Linked DNA regions of Homo sapiens: all the other regions are linked to region 1. The links come from fine-mapping of genetic effects on gene expression. A gene starts in region 1. Each other region holds a variant in brackets. All regions are shown on one strand. Distances are between the middles of the regions. Region 1 holds the start of LDAF1 (lipid droplet assembly factor 1). Region 2 has its middle 54 kb from the start of NPIPB3. Region 3 overlaps VWA3A (von Willebrand factor A domain containing 3A). Region 4 overlaps CRYM (crystallin mu). Region 5 overlaps DNAH3 (dynein axonemal heavy chain 3). Region 6 has its middle 47 kb from the start of CRYM.

The links. PIP is the estimated chance that this variant, and not a neighbour inherited with it, causes the effect.
Region 2: its variant is the best candidate, but not a certain one, in a credible set for the expression of LDAF1 in whole blood (INTERVAL, PIP 0.68).
Region 3: its variant is the best candidate, but not a certain one, in a credible set for the expression of LDAF1 in whole blood (INTERVAL, PIP 0.80).
Region 4: its variant is the best candidate, but not a certain one, in a credible set for the expression of LDAF1 in whole blood (INTERVAL, PIP 0.70).
Region 5: its variant is the best candidate, but not a certain one, in a credible set for the expression of LDAF1 in aorta (GTEx, PIP 0.72).
Region 6: its variant is the best candidate, but not a certain one, in a credible set for the expression of LDAF1 in whole blood (TOPMed, PIP 0.63).

Annotation. Positions count from the first base shown.
Region 1 is chr16:21,155,592-21,160,680 of GRCh38, forward strand. It overlaps LDAF1 (lipid droplet assembly factor 1), which reads left to right and starts at 3,083. Exons shown (of 5, transcript NM_001301771.2): 1 at 3,083-3,155. It also overlaps a transcript of DNAH3 not described here. RefSeq lists silencers at 2,963-3,092, 3,143-3,322 and enhancers at 3,580-4,080, 4,215-4,364.
Region 2 is chr16:21,368,987-21,374,075 of GRCh38, forward strand. It overlaps the pseudogene SNX29P1. Among named protein-coding and RNA genes, the nearest start is that of NPIPB3, 54 kb to the right of the region's middle. The variant C/T (reference allele first, on the strand shown) is at 2,032.
Region 3 is chr16:22,145,284-22,150,372 of GRCh38, forward strand. It overlaps VWA3A (von Willebrand factor A domain containing 3A), which reads left to right. Exons shown (of 34, transcript NM_173615.5): 27 at 953-1,061; 28 at 2,879-3,023; 29 at 4,504-4,648. Among named protein-coding and RNA genes, the nearest start is that of SDR42E2, 15 kb to the right of the region's middle. The variant C/T (reference allele first, on the strand shown) is at 3,088.
Region 4 is chr16:21,267,400-21,272,488 of GRCh38, forward strand. CRYM (crystallin mu) reads right to left here. Exons shown (of 8, transcript NM_001376256.1): 4 at 2,391-2,492; 5 at 155-338. Among named protein-coding and RNA genes, the nearest start is that of CRYM, 8.3 kb to the right of the region's middle. The variant T/C (reference allele first, on the strand shown) is at 2,054.
Region 5 is chr16:21,092,815-21,097,814 of GRCh38, forward strand. It overlaps DNAH3 (dynein axonemal heavy chain 3), which reads right to left. Exons shown (of 62, transcript NM_001347886.2): 18 at 4,541-4,685. Among named protein-coding and RNA genes, the nearest start is that of DNAH3, 56 kb to the right of the region's middle. The variant G/A (reference allele first, on the strand shown) is at 2,341.
Region 6 is chr16:21,322,883-21,327,971 of GRCh38, forward strand. No RefSeq gene overlaps it. Among named protein-coding and RNA genes, the nearest start is that of CRYM, 47 kb to the left of the region's middle. The variant G/A (reference allele first, on the strand shown) is at 3,014.

The DNA of each region.
Region 1 (5,089 bases):
AGCCTGGGAGACAGAGCAAGACTCCGTCTCAAAAAAAAAAAAAAAAAAAAAAAGTTTTAGTATAAGCATGTCCCATTCAATACATGGGCTGTACTTGTACTTGTACTAAAAAGTTACCCATTATTTACCTGAAATTCAGATTTAATTGAGTGTCGTGTGTTTTTATTTGCCAAATCTGCCAACATGGGGAGCAGAGGTCAGCAAGGTTCCAAGTTGCCCCTGCCTCTTGTTATCAAGAGTTTAGGGTCTTAATCTGTTGCTAAAAAAATTTCACACATTTCTTATTCAGAGGCTGGTATTCCTGGCAGCTCATTCCTGAGGCCTAAAATAGTTGTTTAAGCAGAGCAACAGTTTCAATCCTTGGAGGCTACTATAGCAAAGTACCAAAGTCTGGGTGGCTTATAAACAAGAGACATTTATTTCTCACTGCTCTGAAGGCTGGAAGTTCACAATCAGGGTGCCAGGGTGGTCTGGTTCCAGTGAAGGCCCCCTTCCATGTTGCAGGCTGCCAACTTCTCATTGTATCCTCACATGGTGGAAAGAGGGTAAGAGAGCTCTCTGGGAGTTATTCTTATTTTATTTTATTTTATTTTATTTTATTTTATTTTATTTATTTTATTTTATTTTATTTTATTATTTTATTTTATTTTATTTTAATGAGCCAGGGTCTCACTTTGTTGCCCAGGCTAGAGTGCAGTGGTGCAATCTCAGCTCACTGCAGCCTCCACTGCCTGGGCTCAAGAGATCCTCCTGCCTCAGCCTCCCATGTAGCTGGGACTACAGGCATGTGCCACTATGCCCGGCTAACTTTTGTATTTTTAGTAGAGAAGAGGTTTCGCCATGTTGCCCAGGCTGGTCTCGAACTCCTAGACTCAAGCAATCCACCCACCTTGGCCTCCCAAAGTGGTGGGATTATAGGTGTGAGCCACTGGGATCTCTTTTATAAGGGCACTAATCCCATTTAGGAGGGCTTCACCTTCATGACCTAATCACCTCCCAAAAACCCCATGCCTAATCCCATCACATTGGGGGTTAGGATTTTAGAGGAACAGACATTCAGTCCATTGCAGCAAGTAATTGGGAAAGCATAGGAGAGGCTGCGCGTGGATTTTTTTAACCCAACCACTGCATGTTCCTTGAGGGCCAAGTCCTGATGCTATGGAGAGATGCTAGGATCCCAGCCCTGGAGGAACACATGATGTGATGGAGGAAGCATCTATCACACAAAGACAAGCAAAACTCTGCTGGCCCAGCCAAAAATGCCAGAGGTGGAAGGAATTTGAAGATTCACAGAGACGCCCCTAGATGGCACTCTTAAACAAAAATCCCAGTGGAAACCCTAACTCAGCTTTCCAAAGCAACTTCCATTTAGGGAATGATGATTGGAAGGCTGTAATCTAAGGAAACACACACACACACACACACACACACACAATCTTTTCCTGGGTGGGGAACCCAGCATTTTGCAGCTGAACAAAGTGCATGACGCCAGACAAGATTGGCTAAAACTTAAGAATTTAGGGATTCTTGTCTGTCCTATCCCCACCATTAGCTCTTCTTTCTGCTATTGTGGAATTACAGCAGGATTCTGTGGTTTATCATATCATTGTCGTGATCATCATCATAAATCATCATCCCAAGCAAATATTTTTGAGCCCCTACTCTGTGCCTCAATAGGTGCTAAGTTCTCGACAGCCACAGCCACACTATTGCACCAGTCCTCACTACAACCCTGTGATTGCTTCTTTTTTTTTTTTTTTTTTTTTGAGACAGGGTCTCACTCTGTTGCCCAGGCTGGAGTGCAGTGTCTTCACTGCAACTTCTACTTCCCAGGTTCAAGCGATACTTCTGCCTCAGCCTCCCGAGTAGCTGGGATTACAGGTGCGCACCACCATGCCTGGCTAGTTTTTATATTTTTAGTAGAGATGGGGTTTCACCATGTTGGCCAGGCTGGTCTGGAACTCCTGGCCTCAAGTGATCTGCCCACCTCAGCCTCCCAAAGTGCTGGGATTATAGGTGTGAGCCACCGCACCCTGCCAGCTTTTTGTTATCTAAAGACTTATTTTCCAGGTTGCTATGGCCACAGGCAAAGAGGAGAGGTCGGTCAACACAGGTCCCTGTCTGGAAAGTGGCTGAGAACTGTGCAACAGCAGACCAATGGTTGGGCTTATCCCTCTCTCTAATTTATGGTTGAAGCCATGGTTCAGAGAGGTTACTTAGTCACACAGTAAGTTGCCATCATGCTCTATAGCAGTGGTTCTCACCTCGGGACGATGGGGCCTTCCAGGGGACATTTGGCAATATTTTGAGACACAACTGGAGGTGGGGGGGGGCGGTTCTTGTAACTGGCATCTAATGGGTAGAGGCTAGGATATTGCTAAACATTCTACAATCCACAGCTCAGAAACAGAATTATTCCGCCCCAAATGTCAATAGCATACTATTCAGAAACCTTACTCTATAGGGCAGATTTGGGGCCAGGGGAAACAGGGGCTCCTGCTCCGACTTGGATCCATGCAAACCGAGGAATTTGGATTGATTTATCTTGTCTCTCTCAGCCTGGACTTTTTCATGTGTAAAATGGACATCCAATCCATCTGAAAGGATCTCACTGGCTTATGACATTCGCATTTGAGCAGTCATGGTTAAAAACTTCCAGCCAGGGTGATACTTCATCACGTGTGTGTCTTGAGCGCCAGAGACGTTCCAGAGCAGCTGGTTTTAGGCATACAGGAGGGGAAACCCTGACACCCTTGGAAAACTCATTCTCGGCTGCCAGTCTGCCTGTCTTGAAGGTGGTCTGAGCTTTCTCACTCCAAGCCAGTCGTGTGGGAAGGGACACTCTCTGAGCCTCAGTTTCCTCAGCTGTCAACCTCTCAGGGCTTGTTCTAGTGGCTCCGAAAGCCAGTGGGAGCGAGCGCGCTTTGCAAAGCCTTGGGCGCCGGGCCTTGGCGCGCCTTTGCCGGATCCTTCCGGCCACGGGCGGGGCGAGCCCAGAGGAGAAGAGCCGAGGGGCGGTGCCCGGGCCAGGGGGCGGAGGCAGGCGGCTCTGGCTCCCTCTCGGGACGCTCTTTCCTTCTTCCTCTTGTTCCTCCTCCTGCCTCTCTTCGCTTCGCCTGCAAACGCGGTGGGGGCTGCTCGGCGGTCAGGAGCAGGTGAGAGCTCGGAGCTTGGGGGTGGGGGTCCGGGTGCCCCGGGTGGCTAGACCCCTCTCGCCGGGCGGGGACAGAGGAGGAGCGCGGGGGCGACGGCGTGAGCGCGCTATCGGGGTCCCACGCCCGTAGCTTTCTGCCCCGGGGTTAGTGTAAGGGGCGTCTCCTGCTTATGAGTCGCCGGGACGGGGCTGGGAGCGCACGAGGAGACACGATTCCTCCCCACCCCTAAATGCACACTCACCCCGCCACCCCCCAACACACACACACATACACACACACACTACCACTAGATTAGGTAAAATGGTAGCTAGCACCACCACACCCCGAGACTGTGCCCCTTTCTGGGGAACCTGGGGAAGACGTCGAGGCAAACCTCCCTAGGATTATTGAAAACGGGCGCCTTCCTCACCACCCAGCCCCTCTTCTCCACCGAGGTCCCCTTCCCCATCGCTGCAGAGAGATCTGCAAGTATCAAAGGGGGCTTCTTTACCCCCAAATTAATAACTAAGTACTCGACTCCCCTCTGAGTTCCCATTATTCAGTCTCTGTGCCTTCTGGGACGCGGACCCCCTCTCCACCTGCATTTCACTCCCTTCCTCCTCTCCTTGGGTCTCCCTGGCTTTTGAACGCTGAAAGGCTGGGCCCGGATGGGGAGGGGCGGCCAGTGTGAGCTCGAGGCGCCCTGTAGCTCCCATCCCCCAACCAGAGATGTGACCCCTCCTCCCAGCTTGAACTTTCGAGGTAGCCGTTTTCCCCTGGAGGTTCGGGGGTGGGAGGGCCAGGAGATTTATTTGGAGCCTTGGAAGGGGAAAGGGTTAGCTGGTGTTGGCCTGGCCCAGTCCCCCAGGCGTGAAGAAGGCGGGGCACTCCTTGGCCGCGCCGGGTTCTCGCTTTCCCTTCTCGGGAGACAGCTCCGTGCCTGGGGAGGCCCCTCCGAGGAGTGAGTGACCAGGGGGTCTGGGAATTGGTGGCCAGGTAGACGCATTTGAAGGCTGTGGCCGATGGCATTCGCCCCACGCACTCTCTCATCGGACTCCCCAAACCGGTCTGGGTGGCACTTGAGGCTCCCAGGCCAAAGGAGACCTGTAAGGGGAACTCCGCTTGTTTCTGCTTGCTGCAGAGATGAGATTATGGGAACTGAGTGCTGGGAACATCCCAAGTTCAAGACCTACGCCAGAGGCAGCTTCAAAGAGAGAATGTGGGGTGGTGGGATTAGTCCCCTCCTCAACTTTCCCCTCCAAAGGGTTTCTTGTTTTACAAAAGGGAAGTAGCAGAGGATGTCTAGCTGGGATGATTAAAATGTGCTTTAATTTGCATACTAGACCCTGTACAGCTTAGTAGTAGATAAAATTACCCCCTATATGATAAATAAATGTGAGGATCTCTCAATTAATTTTGGCCACGTGGACACAATCTTTTAAGCATTTGTACTGTAGGTCAGGTCAGTTTAAAGGGAGAAATGGAAAAGATATCTCTGTGTCCAGCCAGTTCTGGGAAATATAAAATAAGAATGATTTTTTTTTTATATTTGAAAACTCAACAAGGGTTAAAAAATATATCTAATTTAACCAATTGCCTTTATTAAAAATAAGTAAAAATTGTATGAGATTGGGACACCCCTCAAAATTCCAGGCAGTTTAGTTAGAGTATAATTACTGTGGTGAGGTCTGCCCCCGAGGTGCAGTTCTCCTTAGCAGGGATAGACTTACCCACAAGTAAGTAGATGATGATGTATGGAATGATGGAATTGGGAGCCAACCTGTACAGTAATAAAGAAGAGAAACAGGTCAAGGCTACTGTTGTACAAGGAAAGCTTTCTAGGGAGAATAAAAGGCAATGAGATTTGAAATAGTGTGTTCAGCTTTCTTGCTTTCTGTATATTTTCAGCATTTTGTCAAGCTAAAAAATAAACATAAGCTGTCAGAGATAATACT
Region 2 (5,089 bases), 210 kb after region 1:
TTTTCCTTTTTTTTTTTTTTTTTTTTTTTTTTTAAATAAGAGACAGGGTCTTGCTCTGTTGCCAGGCTAGAGTGCAGTGGTGCAATCATGGCTCTCTGCAGCCTTGAACTTCCTGGCTCAAGCGATCCTCCCACTTCAGCCTCTCAAGTAGCTGGGACTGCACATGCATGCCACTGTGCCTGGTTAATTTATTTCCTACTCTTTAATAAAGGAGGTGGTATGCTGTAAACTCTTGTAGGATGCGGGTGTGTTATGCTGAGCCCTGGTTCTGGAAGGCAGTCTTGTGGCTAGTTGGAAGATGGTAGAGTGACAGAGCTCAGCCCCTTGTTGGCACTCTGCTCTGCCAATCCATTTGTGCCTTGCAGTCAGGCTGGCTCAGTTTGGGATGTGACAGATTTAGGAGCACTTGTATTCACTGAGTTCTCAGGCTGGCACATGAGTGAACTTGGTTTACCTTTGTTCCTGGCATGGCTGATACCATGTGTGGCTGATTCTGTTAGAGTGTGCCCTCAGATTCATCCCTCTGTCTTCTTTGGCTTTGATAGAACCCAGATTTTGCTTGAGGCTGTGGTATGTACTCCTTTATCTCGGTGAGGGATTAAGCCAGTTTTGAGTTTTGTTCTTTGCTTTCTTTGCTCCCTTGTGATTTTCTGGGATTACTTGTTCTTTCCTGATAAAAGGGGCGATAAAGCTGGCTTCATCCCATTCCCTTTCTTCCTGCTCAATTGTAAATGAGATGCCCAAAGTTAGGACAGTCCTCTGTGACAGCGAGGTCAAAAGGTTGGAGGTTTTGGCCTGACATAGCCTTTGTATCACTGGCCTATTTCCAGACTAGCCCAGCTCCATGGGGTTGGATTTTCTTTGTGTGTGGGTTTTTTTGTTTTGTTTTGTTTTTAGAGACAGGGCCTTGCTCTGTTAACTAGGCTGGAGTGCAGTAGTGCAATCATAGCTCATTACAGCCTCAAACTCCTGGGGTCCAGCCATCCTCCTGCCTCTGCCTCCCAAGTAGCTGGGACTACAGGTGTGTGCTGCCACACTCGGCTCCTTGTAGTTGGGTTTTCTGTTTCCTTTTTTTAGAGATGGGTTCTTACTATGTTGCCCAGGCTGGTCTTGGGTTTTCTGTTTTTTTCTTTTTTTTTTTTTTTTGAGACAGAGTCTTGCTCCATTGCCCAGGCTGGAGTGCAGTGGCACCATCTCGGCTCACTGCCAGCTCCGCCTCCCGGATTCACACCATTCTCCTGCCTCTGCCTCCCAAGTAGCTGGGAGTACAGGCGCCCACCACCACACCTGGCTAATTTTTTGTATTTTTAGTAGAGATGGCGTTTCACCGTGTTAGCCAGGATGGTCTCGATTTCCTGACCTCGTGATCCACCTGCCTCAGCTTCCCAAAGTGCTGGGATTACAGGCGTGAGCCACCGTGCCCGGCGGGTTTTCTGTTTTTTTTGTTGTTGTTGAGCAATGCTTTGTTTTGGGGCAGTGTTGTCACATTGATGAGACACCCCTCACCCCCCATGGCTGTGGAGCACAGGTGTTGCTCAGCACTTGGTGTGTTCTTGGTCTTCTATAGATGATTGTCAGATGACTGAAGAACATGCCCTGTCTCACTGCATTATTTCCTGTGGTTGCAAATGATAGAAAATTCTTTAGATTGATTTAAGAAAAAAAAAGATGAAGGACATTTATTTATTGACTCAAGTATCTAAGAAATCATCTTGGAGTTGAGCTGGATTCAGGGGGCCTGCCCTTCTCCCAAATCTGTCTCCATCTGTCATCCCTCAGCACCGCTTCTCTGTGGTTGGGTGTCTTTCCAGGTGGGGGGTCTCTACATGATGGGGTGGAAAATGGCCCCAAGTAGCTCCAGGTTTCCAGGATGATGAGAGATCCTACTTCTAGGACGGGGTCGGCACACTCCCTCCTTATGGGTCATATTATAGGGTTTGTGAGCCATGCAATCTCCATCGCAGTGACTCAGCTCTGCCACTGGAGCAGAAACTCAGCCACAGACCATATGGGAGCAAATGGGTGTGGCTG[C/T]GTTCCAAGACCACTGTGCTTACAAAAACAGTTTGGAGGCCAAATTTGACCCCCAGGCCATTGTTTGCTGACCTCAGCTCCTGGAGGAGACAAGGCCTCTTTTCTGGTGGCTCTGGTAGAACTTGTGCGAAGGGACCCTGTGGTCCAGGGCTGAGACTGGGGTGAGGTTAGTGACACACTCACTTTGGCCACAAAATTGAAGGCGGTACCAAAAAACTTATCAATCAAGATAAATACTATTTTTATGTAATATTAAAAAAAAATGAAAGTTGCATATGCCATGGTTCCGGCCAGTTAATTGCCTGCCCTGGGTTAGCTGTCCACCCCTGCAGTAGGGGGAGGTTAGGATAGTGCTGAAGGATCCCAGTGGAATGTGTTTCCCATAGGAAAGAGGGGTGGTCTTACTAGAAGAAAGGGAAAGGGACCAGGCTCGGTGGCTTACGCCTATAATCCCAGTGCTTTGGGAGGCCGATGCTGGATGATCATTTGATTCTAGGAGTTCAAGACCAGCTTGAGTAACATAGTAAGACCCTTGTCTCTACAGAAAAAAATAAATTAGCCGTGTATGGTGGTGTACACCTGTAGTCCCAGCTACTCATGAGCCTGAGATGGGAAGATCGCTTGAGCCCAGGAGTTCAAGACTGCAGTGAACTATGATCGTGCCACTGTGCTCTAGCCTGGGCGACAGAGTGAGACCTTGTCCGCACCCCACCCCTCAAAAACAAAACAAAACAAAACAAAACCCCAAACAAGGAAAAGGAATGCTGTTTGGTGCACGTGTAGTAGTGATATTAATAGTTGGTTTTCGTTGAGCACCAATTATATGCCAGGTATGTTAATAACTATGGCTAACATTTATTCACTGCATTTATTGGATACACTTTACATGTATTCCTTTTTCTCATTTTTCCCTCATAGCAATCCATACACATAGGTACTGTTCTCCCCACTGTACAGATGAAGAAAGTAGAGGACAAAATAAGTTTCCCAAGGTCACACAGTGCCTGAACTAGAATTTGGGACAAGGTTTTTGTCTTCCTTGTGGTCCCCAAGGAATGAATTCTTGGGCATCGGTGATAGTTAAGTCTTGATAGAAACTTTCCCAAAAGCCTGGTGCTGTTAGTCATCCTCTGTTAATAGGTGTCCCGGGGCAGCTCTTCTCAACACCCCTTCCTGGCACTTGTTCTTGTTGGCATTCGGCTTTCAGGTGTTTGGAGAACCAGAAGCCCTTGCCCGCTTTTTGACTTAACCCCATGTTTCAAAGCAGATCAGTGTATATCCCTAAATTAAATTACGGACACCGCAGGCGCTAATTGGCAGGTGAGCTGCCCTTTAAATAGACCACATTAACTCTGGCAGTGGAAGCGGAACCCTGCTGGGATAATTCTTATCATCAGCAGCATCACCCTGACAAGCTTTAAAAGGATTCTGTAGCAGTAAGCAATTTTGCAGAATTGAAAGGTGAAAACACACTTTAAAGCGTTCATGTAGATTCAAGGTCGGAGGGAGGTGACTGCATTTTTCAAGACAGGCTGCAAGTGAGAGTCACTTGACTGGAAATGTGATGGACGTACCGACAATGGTCTGGGGTATTTTGAAATACGTTGTTGGCCGGCTGGCCCAGGGCGTTGTTGTCGCCAGATTCCCCGTCCTGGTTTCTGAGTGAGGCGGAGAGTGGAAGGAAGGCTGTTTTGTACAGTTGTGTGGATTAGACTGATCGGATGAGCTTGGGAAGTGGATTAGTTTGACATTTAGGGATTGAGACAGAAGACAGTCTTGAGGGACCTGCCCTCTTGCTGGTTTTTGTTATTCCTGGGAAGTTTATCCTAAATGATCCCAGTGATTGTCTTGATCCACAAATACTTATGCACGCTCATACGGATGTATACATTTAGATGCTGCTAACACAAAAAGGAACCCACGCGAATGCCCTCTGCTATGAAGAGAATTAATTATTAAGCAAATGCTGATTGGTCATCATGGACTGGGCACTGTGCTCGGTGCTTTCCTTCCCTTTCTAGTTACCCCAGTAACCCTGGGCGATTCTGCACTTTTGTGTTGATTTTATGGGAGAGGATTTTCAGGCTTAGCATGGTTGAGTGACTTGCTCAAGGTCATTTGGTTGAATGGACTTTTTCTCTGTTGTCCTGCCTGCTAGACTGGAAGCCCCTTAGGGACGAGTTCTTGTTGTCTCTAGCTGGTGACACATAGCCTAGCTTGGTTCACAGCTCCCAGGAAGAATGCAGTGGATCCTAGTGAAGTTGAATTGAAACATTAGAGTGAACTTAACTAGCCTGCCATGCAGTTTCTGGAGATGGGTGTACTTGCCTCCTTCTGGAAGGCAGGTTCAAAGCCTTTGTCACATTTCAGAGGGGACTGTGAGCCTGTTTAGCTCCTAGATTGGAAGCCAGGTCCGACTGCAAAGACTCAGCTTCCCCCACTTGGAATATTAAACAGTTGTGAACGTGATCATTTTGAAGAGGGCCAAGTCCCCTCATTTTGCAGGGCAGTGTGATTTAGTGGTTTGCAGTGAGCTCTGGGGTCCCTTTCTGCCATACTGTTTACTAACTGTGTTGCTGGGCGAGTCACTTCACTTGTCCTGGCTTCAGACCTTGTCTTTCACATGGAGATGGCCTTGGTTGTGATGATGTCAGATGTAAAGTGTTTACTGCAATGGCTGGTGCATAGTTAATGCTCAGTAAATAGTAGTTGCTGTTGCTGCTGTTATTATTATTGCCAGCATGAAAAAATGTTAAAGAGCCAATGTTAAGTGAAGAAAATTGATCACAAAATTATGTATACACTAGCATTACAACTATGAAAATATCTGGGGTTGGGCAAGGTGGCTCCTGACTGTAATCCTAGCATTTTGGGAATCTCAGGCAAGAGGATCGCTTGAAGCCAGGAGTTTGGTACCAGCCTGCACAACATAGCAGAATCTCATCTCTACAAATAAATAAAAATTAAAAAATTAGCTGGGCATGGGGGTGCGTGCCTGTGTCTCAGCTACATGGGAGGCCGAGACAGGAGGATCACTTGAGCCCAGGACGTTGAGGCT
Region 3 (5,089 bases), 990 kb after region 1:
TCTTTCAGTTCAAAATTTATGAACTTCTTACCCCACCATTTAGAGTTTTCTATTTTAAAATTTAGAGATTATTGGCCAGACGCAGTGGCTCATGCCTGTAGTCCCAGAACTTTGGGAGGCCAAGGCGGGCGGATCACCTGAGGTCAGGAGTTCGAGACCACCCTGGCCAACACAGTGAAACCCCGTCTCTACTGTAAATACAAAAATTAGCCAGGCATGGTGCTGTGCACCTGTAATCCCAGCTACTCAGGAGGCTGAGGCAGGAAAATCGCTTGAACCCGGGAGGCAGAGGCTGAAGTGAGCCGAGATCGCACCACTGCACTACACAGCCTGGGCAACCGACTGAGACTCTGTCTCAAAAAAAAAAAAAAATCAGAAATTATTATGATTTTTATTAATATAGCAACTGCATTTACCAAAAAAAAAATCTTAATTCCCTACTCCTTTGTAGAACCATAAATCCACTAGTTTAATAGAAGAAAAAAAGGCTTTAAACAAAAAAAAAAAATACACTTAACAGATGGTTGTTTTTTGTGGGTTTTTGTTTGTTTGTTGAGACAGGATCTTGCTCTGTCATCCAGGCAGGAGTGCAGTGGTGCAATCACAGCTCACTGCAGCCTCTACCTCCCTGGGCTCAGGCAATCCTCCCACCTCAGCCTCCCCCAAGCAGCTGGGACCACAGACACATGCCACCACACCAGCTAAATTTTCTGTTTTTGGTAGAGATGAGGTCTCCCTATGTTACCCAGGCTGGTCTTGATCTCTTGGGCTCAAGCGATCCTCCTGCCTCGGCCTCCCAAAGCGCTGGGATTACAGGCATGAGCCACCGTGCCCAGCCAACAAATATTTTGAGAATTGTTAACCACAATGGAATAAACAATTTTAGGGGGTGATGGGGATATGAAGAAATGACTGATGGGGTGGGTGCTTGCCTCTGCTTGCCTTAACCCAGGGAGTGGTGAGACACATCCAGTGGACGCCCAGGGAGATGGAGGTGTACATCAGGCACTTGGAGAAGGTGTTAAGGCGCTATGTCCAGAGGCTGCAGTGGCTGCTGTCCGGTGAGCCTGCCCACTGCCCTGAAGGGTGGAGGAGCATGAGGGGATGTAGAAGGCTAGCCCCAGGGACCCCAGTGTCAGTCCTTCCAAAGCCAGGCCTTCAAGAACTGCAGATCAGAGGATTAGGCCAGGAACATCATCCACATACAACATGACACTGGGAGGCCGGGCGTGGTGGCTCATGCCTGTAATCTCTGCACTTTGGGAGGCCAAGGTGGGTGGATCACCAGTCAGTAGTTCGAAACCAGCCTGGCCAACATGATGAAACCCGTCTCTACTAAAAATACAAAAAATTAGCCAGGCATGGTGGCGGGCACCTGTAATCCCAGCTACTCAGGAGGCTGAGGCAGGAAAATCGCAGAGGTTGCAGTGAGCTGAGATCGCGCCACTGCACTCCATCCTGGGCAACAAGAGTGAAACTCTATCCAAAAAAAAAAAAAATGACAGTGGGTTCAGAGGACAGGCAAGGGGCTGGATAACAGGGAGGTGGAACATGGGCCAAAGAGCCCCAGCGGGAGCTCACACGCATCCCAGCCTGCTCTGCAAGGCCACCTGCCACACCTTGCCTTCCTGCAAGTGACAAGGGGCTCACTGTCAAAAGGTTTGCTTTAATATTGACTGCGCCCCAGCAAAACAGCCCCTGGAGATGCAGATGGTAAGGGGAACTGACAGAGCAGAAACCCTCTGTTTTGTTTTGTTTTAGAAACAGGGTCTTTCTCTGTCACCTAGTCTGGAGTCCAGTGGTGCAGTCATGGCTTACTGCAGCCTTGAACTGGGCACAAGCAATCCTCCCACCTCAACCTTGCAAGGACCTGAGACTACAGGCACGTGCCACCATGCCCAGCTTACTTTATTTATTTTTTTTAGATACAGAGTCTTTCTATGTTGCACAGGCTGGCCCCGAACTCCTAGGCTCAAGCTATCCTCCTGCCTCAGCCTCCCAAAGTCCTGGGGTTATAGGTGTGAGCTACTGTGTACCTCTTTACAGAGAGCACCAAGTCCCCTCCAGGAGAGGTGAATGGACAGGGTTGGGCTGTGGATTAAGAGACGGTCTGGAAGCATCAAGCCCAAGAAGACAGGCAGACAGCTAGAACTGGACAGGAGGGGATTCGGGCTATGGGGCCTGGAGGGTTTCTGGGGCATCAGGAGGAGGGAGGAAGGGAGTCCTATATAGAGATCCTACAGGTGGCTTTGTACGTGCCACTCAGGGTCCTGTGTAAATTCATTAGGTCCAGTCCTCTGCAGTAGGACCTGGTATAGACAGTCCATGGACAGGGGCGTCATGATGACTGCTGCTTCAGGTACAGTTGTCAGGTCAGAGGCTGAGCTGGGACAGAGAAGGCGTGAGCCTCTCTCCACCCTCGGTTCACATTACCCCTGGGAACGGTGACATAAAACCAGAGATCCAGCGATTTCTTTTGTAGTATGAATCCCCCAGCTCACATACCAGTACACACCCAAACACCATCTAATATTTTAAAACAATGTCATGGTACTATTTAATCCAATCACTTAACTTTAAGGATAAGGAAATTCAAGCCCAGGAGGTTATAACCGCTTGTGCAACTCATCACAGACAAAGCCAGAGCTGAAATCTCGATCTCCCAAAGCCCAAACCACTGACCAGGTCTGTCCTTGGACAATCGACCCCTCCCACAGCACCACAAAAGCCGTCTCTCAGTGGGGTGACATCCAATCAATGATCAGGCAGGCAACAGGTGTCACAAGACTTTATACTTGATAGATAGAGTGAGGGAAACCACCCAGGAGGAGGGACCCCTCACTCCCTCCCTGCCTCTTCCCCACCTGTCTCGGAGCAGGGAGCCGCCGACTGTTTGGCACCGTTTTGGAGAGCAAAGTATGCATATTGCTGGACACGTCAGGGTCCATGGGCCCCTACCTGCAGCAGGTGAAGACAGAGCTGGTTTTGCTGATTTGGGAACAGCTGCGGAAGTGCTGTGACAGGTAGGAGGCGAGGGCTGATCAGGAAGATCAAAGGGGCAGTTCCTGGGGCTTCCCTGGCCAAGCA[C/T]GCCCCCTCTTCTCAGTGCCAACAGGCCTGGAGTTTCTGAGATGCTCTTCTGAGTAACGCGTTTGAGTAGGAAAGAGCACTGTATTCTGCTCTGCTGTGAAGGAAATCAGTTTTTAGAGGCCGGGTATGGTGGCTCATACCTGTAATCCCAGCAATTTTGGGGGCCAAGGCAGGAGGATCACTTGAGCTCAGGAATTCAAGACCAGTCTCAGCAACAAAGTGTCATCCCATCTCTTCAAAACATTTAAAAATTAGCTGGGTATGGTGGTGTGCACCTGTAGCCCCAACTACTTGGGAGGCTGAGAAGGGAGGATCACTTGAGCCCAGGAGGTTGAGGCTGCAGTGAGCTATGATTGCACCAGTGCACTCCTGCCTGGGCAACAGAGTAAGACCCTGTCTCAAAAAAAAAAGGAACGCAATTTTTAAAAATTAATTTCAGGCCTAGGGACAATTGCAAGCACAGCAAAGGAACTACCATGTGGCCTTGAAGTATGGCTTTCAGCTGAACTTGATTTGTTTTAAATTATTTAATGATTTAATTTTTTTAATTTTTGTGAACTTGATTTTTGAGTGGAGGAAGTTGTTTATTTTCCCCATCCAGAAGGGTTGACCCGAAGGGGACCCCAGGGGACTCTCATCGTAGACTAGGCCTCGTTCTTGCCTTAATCAGAGTATACATTTATTGAGCACTTTCTGTGCACCAGATGCTTTACACGCATCATTTCATCAACTCTCACAATGAGCCCGTGAGGTGTTGCTGTTATCGGCCCCCATTTTTCAGAAAAGGAAGCCAGGACTTCAAGAGGTTAAGACACTTGCTGAAGATCGGGTAACCAGTCACTGGCTGAGATAGGATTGTTTGGGTTGTTTGTTTGCTTGTTTGTTTTGAGACGGGGTCTCACTCTGTCTCCCAGGCTGGAGTGCAGTGGTGTGATCATAGCTCGCTGCAGCCTCAACGTCCTGGGCTCAAGTGATCTCCCACCTCAGCCTCCCAAGTAGCTTGGACTACAGGCGCACACCACCATGCCTGGCTAATTTTTTAAAAATCTTTTTCGTAGAGATGGGGGTCTCACTATGTTGCCCAGGCTGGTCTTGAACTCCTGGCCTCAAGCAATCCTCCCAGCTTGGCCTTCCAAAGTACTGGGATTACAGGCACAGGCCACTGTGTCTGGCTTGGGCTGGGATTTAAATCTATTTCTGTCTGCATTCAAATTGTCAGTGTGTACCCTCTCATTCTCAAGAGGCCCCACAGCCCTCTCCCTGAGGGGCCACAGGGCTCGTTGTAGGGGTCTTCAGTGACGAGCAAGAATAGTCCTCATGAGGGTAACTTATCTGAATTCAATCTAGACAGGCCTGTTCTAACCAATCTCTTTCTCCCCTTCTCTGCCCCTCACCTCCTCTTTTCCTCCTCCCCAGTTTTAACCTGCTCAGCTTTGCAGAGAGCTTTCAGTCATGGCAGGACACGCTGGTGGAGACCACAGATGCAGCGTGTCATGAGGCTATGCAATGGGTGACCCACCTGCAAGCTCAGGGCAGCACCTCCATCTTGCAAGCATTGCTGGCAAGTCCCACCACGGAGCCCGACCTTGACGCAAAACAAATACCATCATCCCCTATGCTGATGCTGCACGATGCTTTAGGATTTACAAAGGGCGCTTTATAATTTACAAAGCACTACATCATTTCATCTTCCCAACACCCGAGTGAGAAAAGGATTCTCAATGTTCTCACATTATAGATGAAGACACAGGCTGGGTGCGGTGGCTCACACCTGTAATCCCAGCACTTTGGGAGGGCAAGGCAGGTGGATCACCTGAGGTCAGGAGTTCAAGACCATCCTGACCAACATGGTGAAACCCCGTCTCTACTAAATACAAAAGATTAGCCGGGCGTGGTGGCACATGCCTGTAATCCCAACTACTTGGGAGGATGAAGCAGGAGAATTGCTTGAACCTGGGAGGCAGAGGTTGCAGTGAGCCGAGATTGCACCATTGCACTCCAG
Region 4 (5,089 bases), 110 kb after region 1:
ATATTGTTTTTTTCAATCTCACATGTTTTCAAGGCCCTTAAATAGCTTGGGCATTCTGCATGAATAAACTGGCTCTGCAAATGTAGTCGACTGGTCCCGTCTAGAGAGGAGCCTGGCCACCACCCATCATGCCTTATGGAGCCACTCTACTTACCATTGATGTGAGCCCCTGGCTTCACCCATTCACCAAACAAAATGGGCTCTGTTGCCAGGGTGACTGTGATGATCACATCTGCACCTGCCACAGCCTCCTGGACCGAAGAACAGACCCGTACCTCTCCTTGCACTGTGTCTGCAAACTTCTCTGCATTTTCTTTGGTGCGGTTCCATATCCTCACCTTCATTGGGAGTAACAAGAAGGATATTGGCGCCATTTTTTGGCTGCTTATGTTACACTGAGCCCAGGGATGCGGAGGGAAAGTTGAACTACTCTGGCATAGGGGTCAGTGGTTATCTAAATCACTCCTAAATCATTCCCCATGGAGAATGGACATTTGATCAGGGGTACAGCATTAACTTAGACACCTAGCCAGGTATTTGAAAATCAGCGTTCTCTACCACTTTCCCCTTTTAAAATGAGTGGAAGTATTTCACTTCTAGGCCAAGAGGCACAGCCTCAGTAACTTCATAGCTATTATATATTAATAGCATAATGATTAGCAGAGCAAGTTCTGGAGCCAGGTAGGCTTGGAACCAATCTCCACTCTGCTATTTCCTGAAATTGCTTCATGTCATTCAGCCTTAGTTTCCACATCTGTAAAATGGAAATATAACTGGCAAAGTCTGTGTGGAACTCACACTTTATGTCTGAGACCCCGTAAAGGAGTTGTAATGGGTGGGAGATTCATATGAAGGATTATTTATGATAATGTTTTTCATGGAATAACTTGATCGGTGAAGAATACTTAGGAAATTCAAGATCAGACGAGTTTGAAGGTAAATGGCATAGCCAATGAAAAGGCCAAGAATGGTAGCTACGGCTGGAATCCTGAAAGGTGCTGGGGTTGGAGGGTGGGGCAGCGGCCTCACCAGGAGCTGGGGACTTGCCGACTTGCTTGACAGGTTTCAATGTTTGGGTCAAGGGCTTGTCACCCGTCAACTGAAAATAAGGCCTACAGAATTTCTCATAAGGAAATATAATACATACGGAAACAAACTTTATGTCTAAGCAAGTTCACCAAGCAAGGTGAAAAACAGGACATTTTGCCCGGCCGGAAGTGCATGGTTAACCTCTTCACCCTTCTTGATAGAAGACTATGCAAATTTTATGCAAAAATTAGATAACCTGAAAAGTGATGTTAGAACATTCAGTAAGAGAGGATATAAAATGGTGCATATCTAACGTGACTAAAGCTATGTTATAAAAAGCTGAAGAGGGAAGATCAGAAAACATTAACTGTCTTTGAAAACAGATGAAAGGGCATTTTTCTTTTGTTTTCTTCCTTGTATTAAAAGTAATGGCAACTGGGCGCAGTGGTTCACGCCTGTAATCCCAGAACTTTGGGAGGACAAGGCAGGTGGATCACCTGAGGTCAGAAGTTCCAGACTAGCCTGGCCAACATGGTGAAACCCCATCTCTACTAAAAATACAAAAATTAGCCAGGTGTGGTAGTGGGCGCCTATAATCCAAGCTACTTGGGAGGCTGAGGCCCAAGAATCACTTGAACCCAGGAGATGGAGGTTGCAGTGAGCCGAGATTATGCCACTGCACTCCAGCCTGGGCGACAGCGCGAGACTCCATTTCAAAAAAAAAAAAAAAAAAAAAAGTCATGGCCAAAACTGCAATTACTTTTGCACTCACCTAATAGTCTATATTTCTCAAGGCAGTGGTTTTATTTTCATCATTAAATCATACTTTAAAACTGCTCCATCCCTTTCATACACACACATAAAATAACAATAGCATCAAAAATTCCCAGGGGGAAGCATGAGACGCAGTGGGGGGAAGGTGGACCAGTATGGAGACTGCAAAAGAGAGAGGCTGTGGCCTCCTGGTCTCCAGGTCTCATCCCACCCAGTTTCTTGATCCATAACCTTGAATACTTAAAAACTC[T/C]GGATTCTCCTAAGAAAAACATAATAGACAGGAGCTAAAAGGACAACTGAATGTATACAAGAGATATAATAGAATCTTTTAACCGAGTAAGCTTGCTGTATCCTCAGACAAATGCCCTCTGAACTGAGGACTGGAAACAGGTAATCAGATCTTCCCCTGACTCTTATCCTCCATCCCCTCCATCAGGGCTTCTGGGAAGTCATGAAGATACAAGAATGGTCTAGATGGGGCTCACAACTTAATTATTTCAGAATAACCTGTGGTGCAGTGAAGCAGTATAGACAGGTCAAGGACCACCCCCTTCCCTCTTCTCTCCCACCCCCACCCCTGGACTTACCTCCTTAAAGGAGAACTGCTCTGTGAAGATCTCATAATGGCTGTAGGCCTGGACCCCAGCCCCAAGGATGCACAGCACTTCACTGCTGGGAGGTTTCAGAAACTATATGAGAGAAATGAAGTGGCAAAGGTCAAGGGAGACCCTAGCAGACGGGTAAAAAACTAAGATGGTTTGAGTATCAGGTGACTTCTGCCCTCTCTTCTGCCTCCCTCAAGAGCTTGCAGGCAATCAAGAGAATTTCCTTTTGTGTCTAGTTTCCCCCGTATCAAGTGGGAAAAGAAGGAAGAAGGCTTCACTGAACAGCTAATGTATGCCAATGCTTTGCCCCCATGATCTCATTTAGTCTAGACATTGACCCTACGAGTTGGGGACTCCTACTATCTTCTTCTTACAGATGAAGAGACTGAGGTTGCCCTGGTAACAGAAAGGTGAACTTGCTCTGGGTCTTACAACTACTTTTTAAAATTATTTATTTATTTCTTTTTCTTTCTTTCTTTCTTTTCTTTTTTTTTGAGATGGAGTCTCGCTCTGTCGCCTAGGCTGGAGTGCAGTGGCACGATCTTGGCTCATTGCAACCTCTGCCTCCTGGGTTCCAGTGATTATCCTACCTCAGCCCCCCGTGGAGCTGGGATTATAGGTGTGCGCCACAACACCCAGCTAATTTTTGTATTTTCGATAGAGATGGGGTTTCACCATGTTGGCCAGGCTGGTCTCAAACTCCTGACCTCAGGTGATCTGTGCACCTCGGCCTCCCAAAGTACTGGGATTACAGACGTGAGCCACCGCACCTAGCCAGGTCTTACAACTATTGAAGGGCACAGTGTGGCTCTAAAGTCACGTCTTCCATACTCCAAAGCCCATGTCCTTTCTTCATATCTCAGGTACATGCTCAGCCATACCCACTTCTCAGAGCTCTGAGCTGCTTCTAAGAGCTGCCTGGATTCTGTGAGCCCTTCCTTCCCAGGGTTCTAGCTATATTCACTGGGCCAACTCTGTTGATCTTTTCACTGCCTCTGTCTTCCTCTAAAGACGAATGTAGAATTAGCATTTGTGGCATCTCCTGAGGGTGTCTGTGTTTGAGAGCAGGATTCTGTGATCAACTCACGTCCAGTGCCACCTCTCCAATGAAGCCTTTCTGACCTCCTTGATAGAATGCACCAGGCCATAGCACTTATTTGTTTGTAGATTTTCTTCTACAGGTCTTTAAGCCCCATGAGGACAGAGGTAGTCTTATTTGCACAGAACTGGTACATACCTACTATGACCTACAAGAGGTAGCACTGGGCTTCTCAACCTCGGTACTACTAACATTTGGGCTGGACAATTCTTTATTGGGGAGGGGCACCAACCTGTGTATTATAGGATGTGCAACAGTATCTCTGGTTTCTATCCATTAGATGTTAGTAGCATTTTCCACCCCTTCAAGTTGTGGGAACTAAAAACGTCTGCACACTCCTAAATGTCTCTGGAGCAGGTGGCAAACTCATGCTCAGTGGAGAACCACTGGCATAGAGGAAAGACATCACTTGGCCCTCGACACCATATGTATTAAATAAAACCCTCTTCTGCCTTTTCTCTATTCCATTTAGTAAACTTTGAGTTCCCTGTGGTCTGTTCTTTTATAAAATGCTACTCACTGGAATTTTGGAGTATAATATTTAAAAAGTGAAAAGTCTTCTTAACTACTAATTACTAGCAAAACAGCATCTCTGAAATATTAGGAATTAATTTTATCTCCTGCAGCTACCGAAGGAGAGATACCATTCTGTGCCATAAAATATAGTTTAACGTCTCTGATTTGAAAAGGTTTCAAAATGATAATATCCACAAGACTAGAAATCTTATGTTGCTGTCTGATAAGGATAATTAGATTTTTTTCCTTAATTGTTACCATTTTCTTCTGTTCTCAGTTAATATGAATCTATTCTTGAAAGTACAGGTGAGCTTCAGAAATTGTTACAGTATCCCATAAAAATAACCTTCAACTTCCTAAACTAAATGTGTAATTCTAATTGGTTGTCTTACTTGATAATTTGTTGCCCTGGTAATAGTGTGATAATTGATATTTTTAAAATTTTTTTTTTTTTCCGAGACAGTCTCGCTTTGTCGCCCAGGCTGGAATGCAGCGGTGTGATCTCAGCTCACTGCAACCTCTGCTTCCTGGGTTCAAGCGATTCTCATGCCTCAGCCTCCCGAGTAGCTGGGATTACAGGTATGTGCCACCATACTTGGCTAATTTTTTTTTTTTTTTTTGGTAAAGATGGGGTTTCGCCATGTTGGCCAGGCTGGTCTCGAACTCCTGACCTCAAGTGATCCACCTGCCTCGGCCTCCAAAAGTGCTGGGATTACAGGTGTAAGCCACTGCACCCAGCCGATTTTTAATCATATGTTTATAAGATTTATTAAACAGCATTAGTGGCACTTCAATCTTTTCTCCTAAGCATGCAGGTTATTAAGTACACGTATATGAATCTGCTGGGTTTCTCATTTAAAGAGTCTGAAAGTCTGTTTCATTTGCATTTGCCAAGGCCTTGCATGGTCTGGCCCTCCTATCTCTAAAGCTGTCTCTCATACCACCATGCCATGTTCCCCTGCACTTCCTGTCTTCCAGCCATACTGGCTTCCTTGCAGCTTCCCAAGCTCATGTACTTCCTTCAACCACAGGGCCTTTGCATGAATTAATTCCTTGCCATACGATG
Region 5 (5,000 bases), 63 kb before region 1:
AAAGCTCTGAACAAATACCTAATCTAAGAAGATATACAAGAGGTGAATAAGCATATGAAAAGATGTTCAATATCATTGCCATTAAGGAACTACAAATTAAAAAACAATGAGTGGCTGGGTATGGTGGCTCATGCCTGTAATCCCAACACTTTGGGAGGCCAAGGTGGGAGGATTGCTTGAGCCCAGGAATCTGAGGCCACCTGGGGCAAATTAGTGAGACCCTCATCTCAATTTAAAAACAATAACAACAACAATAGCCAACAACAGATACCACTACACACCTATTAAAATGGTCAAAACTCAAAACACTGACAACACTAAATGCTGGCAAGGATGTGGAGCAACAGGAAATGTCATTTATATTGGTGGAAATACAAAACGGTACAGCAACTCTGAAAGACAGTTTGGCCGTTTCTTACAAAACTAAACATATTCTTATCATATAATCCAGCAATTGTGCTTCATAGTACTTACCTCAAAAAGTGAAATTCAAAAACATACATCATTTACAATAGCTCCAAAAAAGGAAATATTTATGTATAAATTTAACAAAACATGCATAGGAGCTGTATGCTGAAACCTGCAAAACACTGATAAAAAGAAGTAAAAGGAGAACTAAATAATTGAAGAGATGTAAAGTGTCCATTGATTGAAAGACTCAATGTAATAAAGATGTGAATTCTTTCCAAATTTATCTATAGATTTAAAACATTTCCAACAAAATCCCAGCAGAGTTTTTTGGTATGTATAGACAAACTGATTCTCAAATTTATGTGGAAAAATAAAGGGACTAAAATACTCAAAATAAAATTTTAAAAAGAAAAATGAAGTTAGAAGAATCACACTATGTGATTTTAAGACTTTCTATAAAAATACAGTTGTCAAGTTGATGTGGTATCAGTGAAAGGCTTGACATATAGATTGGCAGAACAGAATAGAGTCAAGACATCAACCCACGAAGATATGGACAACTGATTTTTGACAAAGATACAATTAAGTGGATAAAAATTTTTTTTTCCCAATTACTGGAACCATTGGACATTTATATGTAAGACAATGAACTTGAACTAAGCCTCGTATTTTAAAAAAATTAACTCAAAATGGACCATAGGTCTAAATGTAAAACATAAAACCACAAAAAATCTAGAAGAAAATATAGGAGAATATCTTCATGACCAGGGTTAGGCTAAGAGTCCTTAGAGATGATACCAAGAGCACAATCCATAAAAGAAAAATTGATACGTTGGACGTCATCAAAGTTAAAACCTTTTTCTCTGTGAAAGACACTATAAAGAGAATAAAAAAACAAGCCATGGACTTGGAGAAAATATTTGTAAATCACATAATCTCACAAAATTTATAAAGACCTCACAAAACTCAACAGTAAGAAATCAAACAACCAATTAAACAAATGGGTAAAAGACTTGAACAGACACTTCACCAAAGAGGATATACAAATGACAGGTATGCACATAAAGAAATGTTCAAGATCATTAGGCATTGGGGAAATGCAAATTAAAATCATAATGAGACATCACAACTACTTATGAGAATGGCTAAAATAAAAAAATACAGGCCAAGCACAGTGGCTCACACCTGTAATCCCAGCACTTTGGGAGGCCGAGGCAGGTGGATCACCTGAGGTCAGGAGTTTGAGATCAGCCTGGCCAACATGGTGAAACCCCGGCTCTACGAAAAATGCAAAAATTAGCCAGGTGTGGTGGCATGCTCCTGTAATCCCAGCTAAATGGGAGGCTGAGGTGGGAGAATTGCTTGAACCCAGGAGGCGGAGGCTGCAGTGAGCCGAGATCACACCACTGTACAAAGTATGACAAAGTGACACTCCATCTCAAATATATATATATATATGGACAATAATACCCAGTGGCTGGTTGATATGGTTTGGCTGTGTCCCCATTCAAATGTCATCTAGAATTATAGTTCCCATAATCCCCACATGTTGTGGGAGGGATCTGGTGGGAGGTAACTGAATCATGGGGTCGAGTTTTCCCATGCTGTTCTCATGATAGTGAATAAGTCTCATGAGAACTGATGGTTTTATAAAGCTCAGTTCCCCTGCACATGCTCTCTTGCCTGCCGCCATGTAAGAAGTGCCTTTGCTCCTCCTTCACCTTCCACCATGGTTGTGAGGCCTCCCCATCCAAGTGGAACTGTGAGTTCATTAAACTTCTTTTTCTTTACAAATTACCCAGTCTCAGGTATTTCTTCATAGCAGTATGAAAATGGACTAATACACTGATGAAGAGGTGGAACAACTGGAATTATCACACATTGGTGAGGGATGCACAACGGCACAGCCACTGTGGAAAACAAAAGTTT[G/A]GCATTTTCTTATAAACTTGCAAATATACTTTAAATATAATTCAGCAATCCACTGCTGGGCATTTACCCTAGAGAAATAAAAACTTACATTGACACAAAAACGTTGACATAAATATTTACAGCATCTCTATTTATAATAGTCTGAGAGTGAAAACAGTGGGTAAATGGTTAAGCTGGTGTATCCATAGAATGGGATACTACTCGCAATAAAAGGAAATGACCTATTGCTACATCCAACAACTCGGATGAATCTTAAAGGCAGTGTGCTGAGTGAAGGAAGCAGTCTTGAAAGATTGCATACTGTATCATTCCATTTGTAGGAGGAGCCTCAAAAGGACAAAACTATAGGAACAATGAAGAGATCAATAGTTGCCAGGGGTTACAACTGGGGGGAGGATTTGACCACAAGGAGACAGTCCAAAGAAATTTATTGAGTTGATGAAATTGCTGTTTTCTGATTGTAGTGATGTTTATATGAAAGTCAACAACTGTTAAAATTCATAGAAATGTATGCCAAAAATGTCCATTTTAATGTATATAAATTTAAAAATAAAATGTAAAATGTTTTTAAAATACAATACCTATTTCTAATAAAAACACTTGGTAATTTATAAATACTGTTTTTTTTGAGACAGGGTCTCGCTCTGTCTCCCAGGTTGGAGTGCAGTAGTGCCATCACAGCTGATTGCAGCCTCAACCTCCCAGGTTCAAGCGATGCTCCTGCCTCAGCCTCCTGAGTAGCTGGGACTATAGGTGCACACCACCATGCCCAGCTAACTTTTTCATTTTGTTTTTAGTAGAAATAAGGTCTTGCTAAGTTGCTCAGGCTGGTCTTAAACTCCTGAGCTCAAGTAATCCTTCTACCTTGGCCTCCCAAAGTGCTGGGATTACAGGTATGAGCCACCATGACTGGCTTTCTTGTGTTTATAAATACTGAAGCACTAGAAACTTGCTAAAGGCTCAAACCTAAGGGTCTCTGATTTTTTTTTTTTTTTTTGAGACAAGGTTTTGCTCTGATGCCCAAGTTGGGGTGTAGTAAGCAGATCATAGCTTACTGCAGCCTTGATCTCCTGGGCTCAAGCGTTCCTCCCATCTTAGCTTCTCGAGTAGCTGAGACTACACGTGCACCATCACACTTGGCTGATTTTTTATTTTTTGTAGAGACAGGGTTCTCACTATGTTACTGAGGCTGGTCTCGAACTCCTGGGCTCATGCAATCCCCCTGCATCAGCCTCTCAAAGTGCTGGGACTACAGGTGTGAGCCACTGCACCCAGACAAGGATCTCTGATTTTGTCCTCTGTTCTTCAACACCCTCCACAGGTGTTATCATTCATGGCTTTGATTGTAATCTACACATCAATTATTCCCCAACATAAATCCCACCCGCCAAATCTCTCTCCTAAAATCCACACTGATACACTCAATTGCTATTTAATATTCCCATTTGATTGTTTCCAGGTGCCTCAAACTCAATGTATTCAAGTTGATGGGTTTTTTTTTATTTGTTTGTTTTGTTTTGTTTTTTTCCCAACAAATCTGTCACTTCTCTTTTTCAGTGATGGTAATACCAACCAAATTGCCTGAGCCAGTCATCTGGAAGTTGGTTCTTTGCTGTTATTATCCTCACTCATCCCTGAAGTAAGAGAACTAAGTCTTGGAGAAGCTAAGTAACTTTTCCCAAAGGTCAGCTAGTAAGTTCTTTAAGCATTAAAATTCTTACCTCTGAGGCAATAAAATTCTTACCTTTGAGAGGATAGTAACCTCTTCCTCCCTGCCCCTTAACCCATATCGGATCAATCATTAAGTCCTGTTGATTCCAACTCCTCAATACCTTTCTGGACCCCAGATCCTAGAGTAAAAGGTAGTTTACAAATGTCTATGGCACCCTGGCACCCTGGTCTTTCCTGAAGCAGCACCATCGTGAAACTGCCATCTGTTCTCCTACCATCTGCAAATCTAAGTCGTGACTCTGGGTGGCTGCCTATTGTGTTTTACCCTGGAAATAGATCTGGCTCTTTCTCCACCTTCCATTTTTATTATCACATCAGATAATTTTGACTGTGGCTGCCTTAATCTGGAGTGTCAGAATCTGATTAAAAGTCCAGCCAGATTCTTAAGTGCAAACCATATTTCAGAAGTGACTGGGTGGATCCTCCACCTCATCCCCATCTGTCCCAGCAGAGTGAGATCACCACATACCATTCATCCATTCCTCTGACTTGATGCTGAACTCATAGGCTGTCGACCACAGCTGCTCATAAGGTACTTTGTTCTTCAGCATGGCCTGCAGAAGAGGGTAAGTACTCTTCTCCTTTTCCAATAGCTCTTCCTCCTTATTGATCAACTGCAGGGCAAAAGGAGATGCTGTTTATGGGATGGGTTGTTCTCCTAAGCCCTCGAAGACACCAGGGCAAATTCCTCAGTGCCTTGAAAACCAAGTGGAGGGAAATGCTTATTCATCTGGAGAGTAAGAGAGGAAACTAAAGCATGAACTCAAGCAAGAATGTCCCTCTGCCACCTCCAAGGACCTTGGCAGCTGAGGTCTGTCTGGTTGAAACTGTAGGATAATCAGCTACTTGCCCTATCATCTCTGTTTCCACTCTATGACAGCCATATCTCCGTTTTCATAATTTTCATATGTACTTTAGCTACATATATG
Region 6 (5,089 bases), 170 kb after region 1:
GTAGCTGGGATTACAGGCATGCACCACCACATCCAGCTAATTTTGTATTTTTAGTAGAGATGGGGTTTATCCATGTTGGTCAGGCTGGTCTCAAACTCCTGATCTCAGGTGATCCACCCACCTCGGCCTCCCAAGGTGCTGGGATTACAGGCGTGAGCCACCGCGCCCAGCCTACCTTTTTTATTCTTAAGAGTGGACTTAGTTTTACCAACTTTGATGATTTGAATTCTCTGAGGCCCATGTCTCCTCCTGCTCCTGACCAGCTCTTGTAGGTTCCCCCCTGATTCCAGCCCCCAAGAAGCTACTTTCAGCTTTGAAATTTATGTGCCAGCTTTGCCTACCCCCTGAGAAAGGGAGATTAGATCAGGTGCTTTGCATCTGGTATTTTGCAGTTTTACCAAAAGTGATGATTATGACCCCTCAGCGTAATTTCATAGCCACCAACAATGTTCTTAGGTTTGGATAGCAATCCAAATATACTTTAAGCTACCATCAGATTAAACTGTCTTAAGAAAGTAGAATTAACTGTCATTATTTGTGGATTCTGAATTTGTGAATTCAACAACTCACTAAAATTTATGTGTAACTCAAAATCAGTAACTGTTTCACTTTTGAGGTCATTTGCAGACATGCAGGGAGTGGCAAAAAATTTTGAGTTCTCCAAGGGTGGTTCCCAGCCTTGGCCAGGTCAAAGAAGATGACACCCTGTCCACCTTGTTTCAACCCTCATACTGCAAACAAGTATTCTTGACTTGATATAGTTAGTGCCTTTTTTTTTTTTTTTTTGCATCTTTGTTCTTTATGTTGGTGATTTTGTTGTTTAATGTCAGCCCCAGGCATAGTGCTGAAGTACTGTCTCATGTTCCTAAGTGCAAAAGGGCTATGATTATGTCTTTTTTTTTTTTTTTTTTTTTTTTTTTTGAGACAGATTCTTACTCTGTTGCCCATGCTGGAGTGCAATGGCGTGATCTCGGCTCACTGCAACCTCCACCTCCCCCAGCTCAAGCCATTCTCCTGTCTCAGCCTCCTGAGTAGATGAAACTACAGGCACACACCACTGCACCCAGCTACAGTTTTATATTTTAGGAGAGATGGGGTTTCACCAAGTTGGCCAGGCTGGTCTAGAACTCCTGATCTCAAGGGATCTGCCCACCTTGGCCTCCCAAAGCGCTGGGATTACAGGCATGATCCACTGTGCCTGGCCCTGATTATGTCTTTTGGAGAAAATATCTATGTTAGAGAAGCTTAATTCAGGCATGAGTTATACTGCTGCTGGCTGTGAGGTCAGTGTTAGTGAATCAACAGTATGTATTAAATAAGGTGTCTTTAAACGGAAACACCCCAAAAAACAGGTCGTGTATTGATCAATTGATGAAAATGTGACCAGAGGCTTGCAGGAACCTAGGAGTATTTTCCCTAGGAGTAATCTTTCAGTATTCCCTAACTCAAGTGTCTGTGATGACTTTATAGAACATAACCAAGAATGATGAAAATGGATGGTGTCCAGGATGGGAACATAACATGTACAGCATCAGCACTTTCATATGAAAGTCTCCCAACAGCACAGGTGCAGCTGTACGTTCCACCAGTACACAGGGCACATTCAGTTCAAGAGCTGAGGTCGATACGGTGTAGACTCTGTAATTATATGGAAGCCTCCACTTTTGTTTGCCAGAATTTGTGCAAAGTCCTACTTACTTTCTTCTCAAGTCAAGTGTAGTCTCTAGACGAGATATATGGCAGCAAACAATGTTGATGATGAGTTCCAGGCACTGCTAACATTCTGTATTTTTAAACTCAGCACATACCTAGGCACAGTGCTGCCAGAGAGTAAACTCATAGTTATCTTAGTGGGTACACCTGGGTCCAGGAAAATAGGATTTATGTTTGCTATTTACCCTTTCCTCACAATAATAAATCTGCAGGTTTTTTTTTTTTTTTTTTTTTTTGAGACAGAGTTTTGCAGTTGTCGCCCAGGCTAGAGTGCAGTGGTGCGATCTTGGCTCACTGCAACCTCTGCCTCCCAGTTTCAAGGATTCTCCTGCCTCAGCCTCCCAAGTAGCTAGGATTACAAGCATGCACCACCACGCCCAGCTAATTTTTTGTATTTTTTAGTAGAGATGGGGTTTCACCATGTTGGCCAGGCTGGTCTTGAACTCCTGGCCTCAAGTGGTCCACCCGCCTCTGCATCCCAAAGTGCTGGGATTACAGGTATGAGCCACCACACCTGGCCAAAATCTGCAGTTTTATATCAAAATGTATCATCAGTGACAGTCCCTAAGGGCAATTGCATGTTTTTCTGACACCATAGTTGTATCACAATATATCACAACTGTTAGCATTATGGACTAGAAAAGCAGTACATTTACTGTTTTTTCAAAACTAATTGGACTATCCTTGATACCTACCATCCCCAGCCTGTTTGAGATGCAGTAAGGGGCTCAGGTTGGTGCCAAAATATTGGGCACACCCTCAGCCATGAGTTACCATGATTAGCGGCAAGCGCAGATGAAGCCTTGTCCTGGTGTGTGCCCTTGGGTTCTTTGAAGCTGATGAGTGATTTAGAACATTGGCAGCCAAGTATAAGCTGGTCATATGGAGTCACACATGAAGCTGAGAGATGTCTGATTCATCTCATCATGAAAGCTGTTACTCTTATCAAAATTTCATCAACTTTGGGGAATGATTATGTTGCTGACTAGAGATCAACATGGAAATCTGGGTATAAAAAGCAGTCAGGGAGGCTGGATCCTTTCTTTCAGTGGCTGCCTCAAATCCAGCAGGCCCTTGAATAATGTCATTTTGTCCAACGTCATTTTGTTATAATTTTGATGGGAAAAAAGAAATTGATTCCCAGCCCGGGCTGTTGTCAGTGTGGAGCTTGCATGTTCTCTCCGTATCTGTGTGGGTTTTCTCTGGGCATTCCAATTTTCTCCTGCATCCCAAAGATGTGCACTTTAGGGGAATTGACGTGTTGACATTGTCCCAGTCTAAGTGAGTGTGAGGTGTGCGT[G/A]ACTGTGCCCCGTGATGGCATTCATCCAGTCTAGGGTTGGTTCTTGCCTTGTGCCCTAAGCTGCAGGGACAGGCTCTGGCCCCCTGCGACCCTGAACTGGAATAACTATCTAAATCATTATTTTACTTGTGTTTGTTAATCTGTCTTAAATGTATATATGGCTCACATTATTTATTTCAGTGTTTAATATTAGAAGTGTTTTGGTATTTATTTAGATGTTTGGTGATGTTTTTCTGACCCCCGAAAAAAGAAAACAGTAATATACAATAAAAACTTAACTCTTTTTTTTTTTTTAATTTTTTTCAGAGACAAGGTCTTGCTCTGCTACCCAGGCTGGGGTGCAGTGGTGCAATCATAGCTCACTGTAATCTCAAACTCCTGGGCTCAAGTGTTCCTCCCACCTGAAGCTCCCAAGTAACCGGGATGACAGATGTGGGCCACTACTCCTGGGCTAATTTTTTTTTAATTTTGTAGAAATAGAGTCTCACCATGTTGGTCAGGCTGGTCTCAAACTCCTGGCCTCAAGCAGTCCCCCTGCCTCAGCCTCCCAAGTTCTGGGATTACAGACATGAGCCACCATGCTGGCCCTTAACTCTTGTTTATATCAATTAGATTATGGCAAAGTTAGTTTCGTTATACATCATTTCACTTAAAGTTACAGTTTCCAAGAACCTATTGATGATGATAAGTGAGGGCTTACAGTACATGTCTTGGAGATAAATCATTGTGAATGCACAGTCACCTCTCAGGCTAAATAAATATTAACTCAGGAACACCAGAATCCAGGTCAGTTCCAGAATCTGACCTCATTCTTCCCTCTTCCCTTTGGATAAAGGTGTTTCTTTGTTTATGAGAACTATAGGAATGCCTCATTTTTATGCAAATATAAAGCAAGTGCCCAACCACCGCATTCACCTAAATGCAGATGTTTTGGAGGCTCAAAACTCAAGGGTCTCCACCCAGGATCCCTACATACAGAAAAGACACTTGTCCAGGATGGGGGCTAAATCTTTGGAGTTGAGTGTTATGTTTTTATTTTGCTTTGTTTTTCATAGTTTTTTGTGCAAAAAATGAGTGGAGCAAAGTAGCTGAGGGAACTGACTGTATGCTAGTCTTTTTGAGATTCAGAACTAGTGATACGTTGGAGTCCAGGTGACAAGTGTGGCAGGGAGTGGAAACCCTGTTGAGAGACGGGGACTTGAGAAGCATGGAATAGTACCTTTGGTGAGGATGTTGATGTTCTCTCAAGCTATTCCATCTACATTGGCAATGATGAGGCTCCCGATGGAAGCTTTTGAGAATCAGACTATTGGGGATTTGCTGCAGGAAGAGTTGTGACAATCAAGCCATTTAAATCTGAGTAATAAAACCGCATGATATTTCATTTTCCCCTGCAGGCTTTTGAAGCCTTTGATATCCTGTTTACATCAAACACATTTACTCCTAAGAAAATCTTTAGTGTATACAATTCCACATACAGATATTTTAAATGACTAACTACTTTGGCTTAGAAGAGTACAAATGACACCCCAGTCTTTTAAAATTTCAATTAGATTAAGTTTAATCTAGGCTAAATTCATTGATTGATCACCTCAAATATTGAAACATAATTGCCTCAAATATTGAAACAATAAAGTAGTATTGTTCCTTAATTTCTTAGTATTTTCTCTACTAGAGATTCTCTTATTGTAGGATTTTGAATGAATTTCATGGATGGTTTCTTTTCTTTTCTTTTGAGTGGAGTTTTGCTCTTGCTGCCCAGGCTGGAATGTAATGGCGAGATCTCGGCTCACTGCAACCTCCGCCTCCCGGGTTCAAGCAATTCTCCTGTCTCAGCCTCCTGAGTAGCTAGGATTACAGGTGCCCTCCACTATGCCTGGCTAATTTTCGGTATTTTTAGTAGAGACGGGGTTTCACCACGTTGGCCAGGCTGGTCTTAAACTATTGACCTCAGGTGATCTGCTTGCCTCAGCCTCCCAAAGTGCTGGGATTACAGGCGTGTATTACGGGAAGTCAGGGACCCCGAACGGAGGGACCGGTTGAAGCCATGGCAGAAGAACGTGGATTGTGAAGATT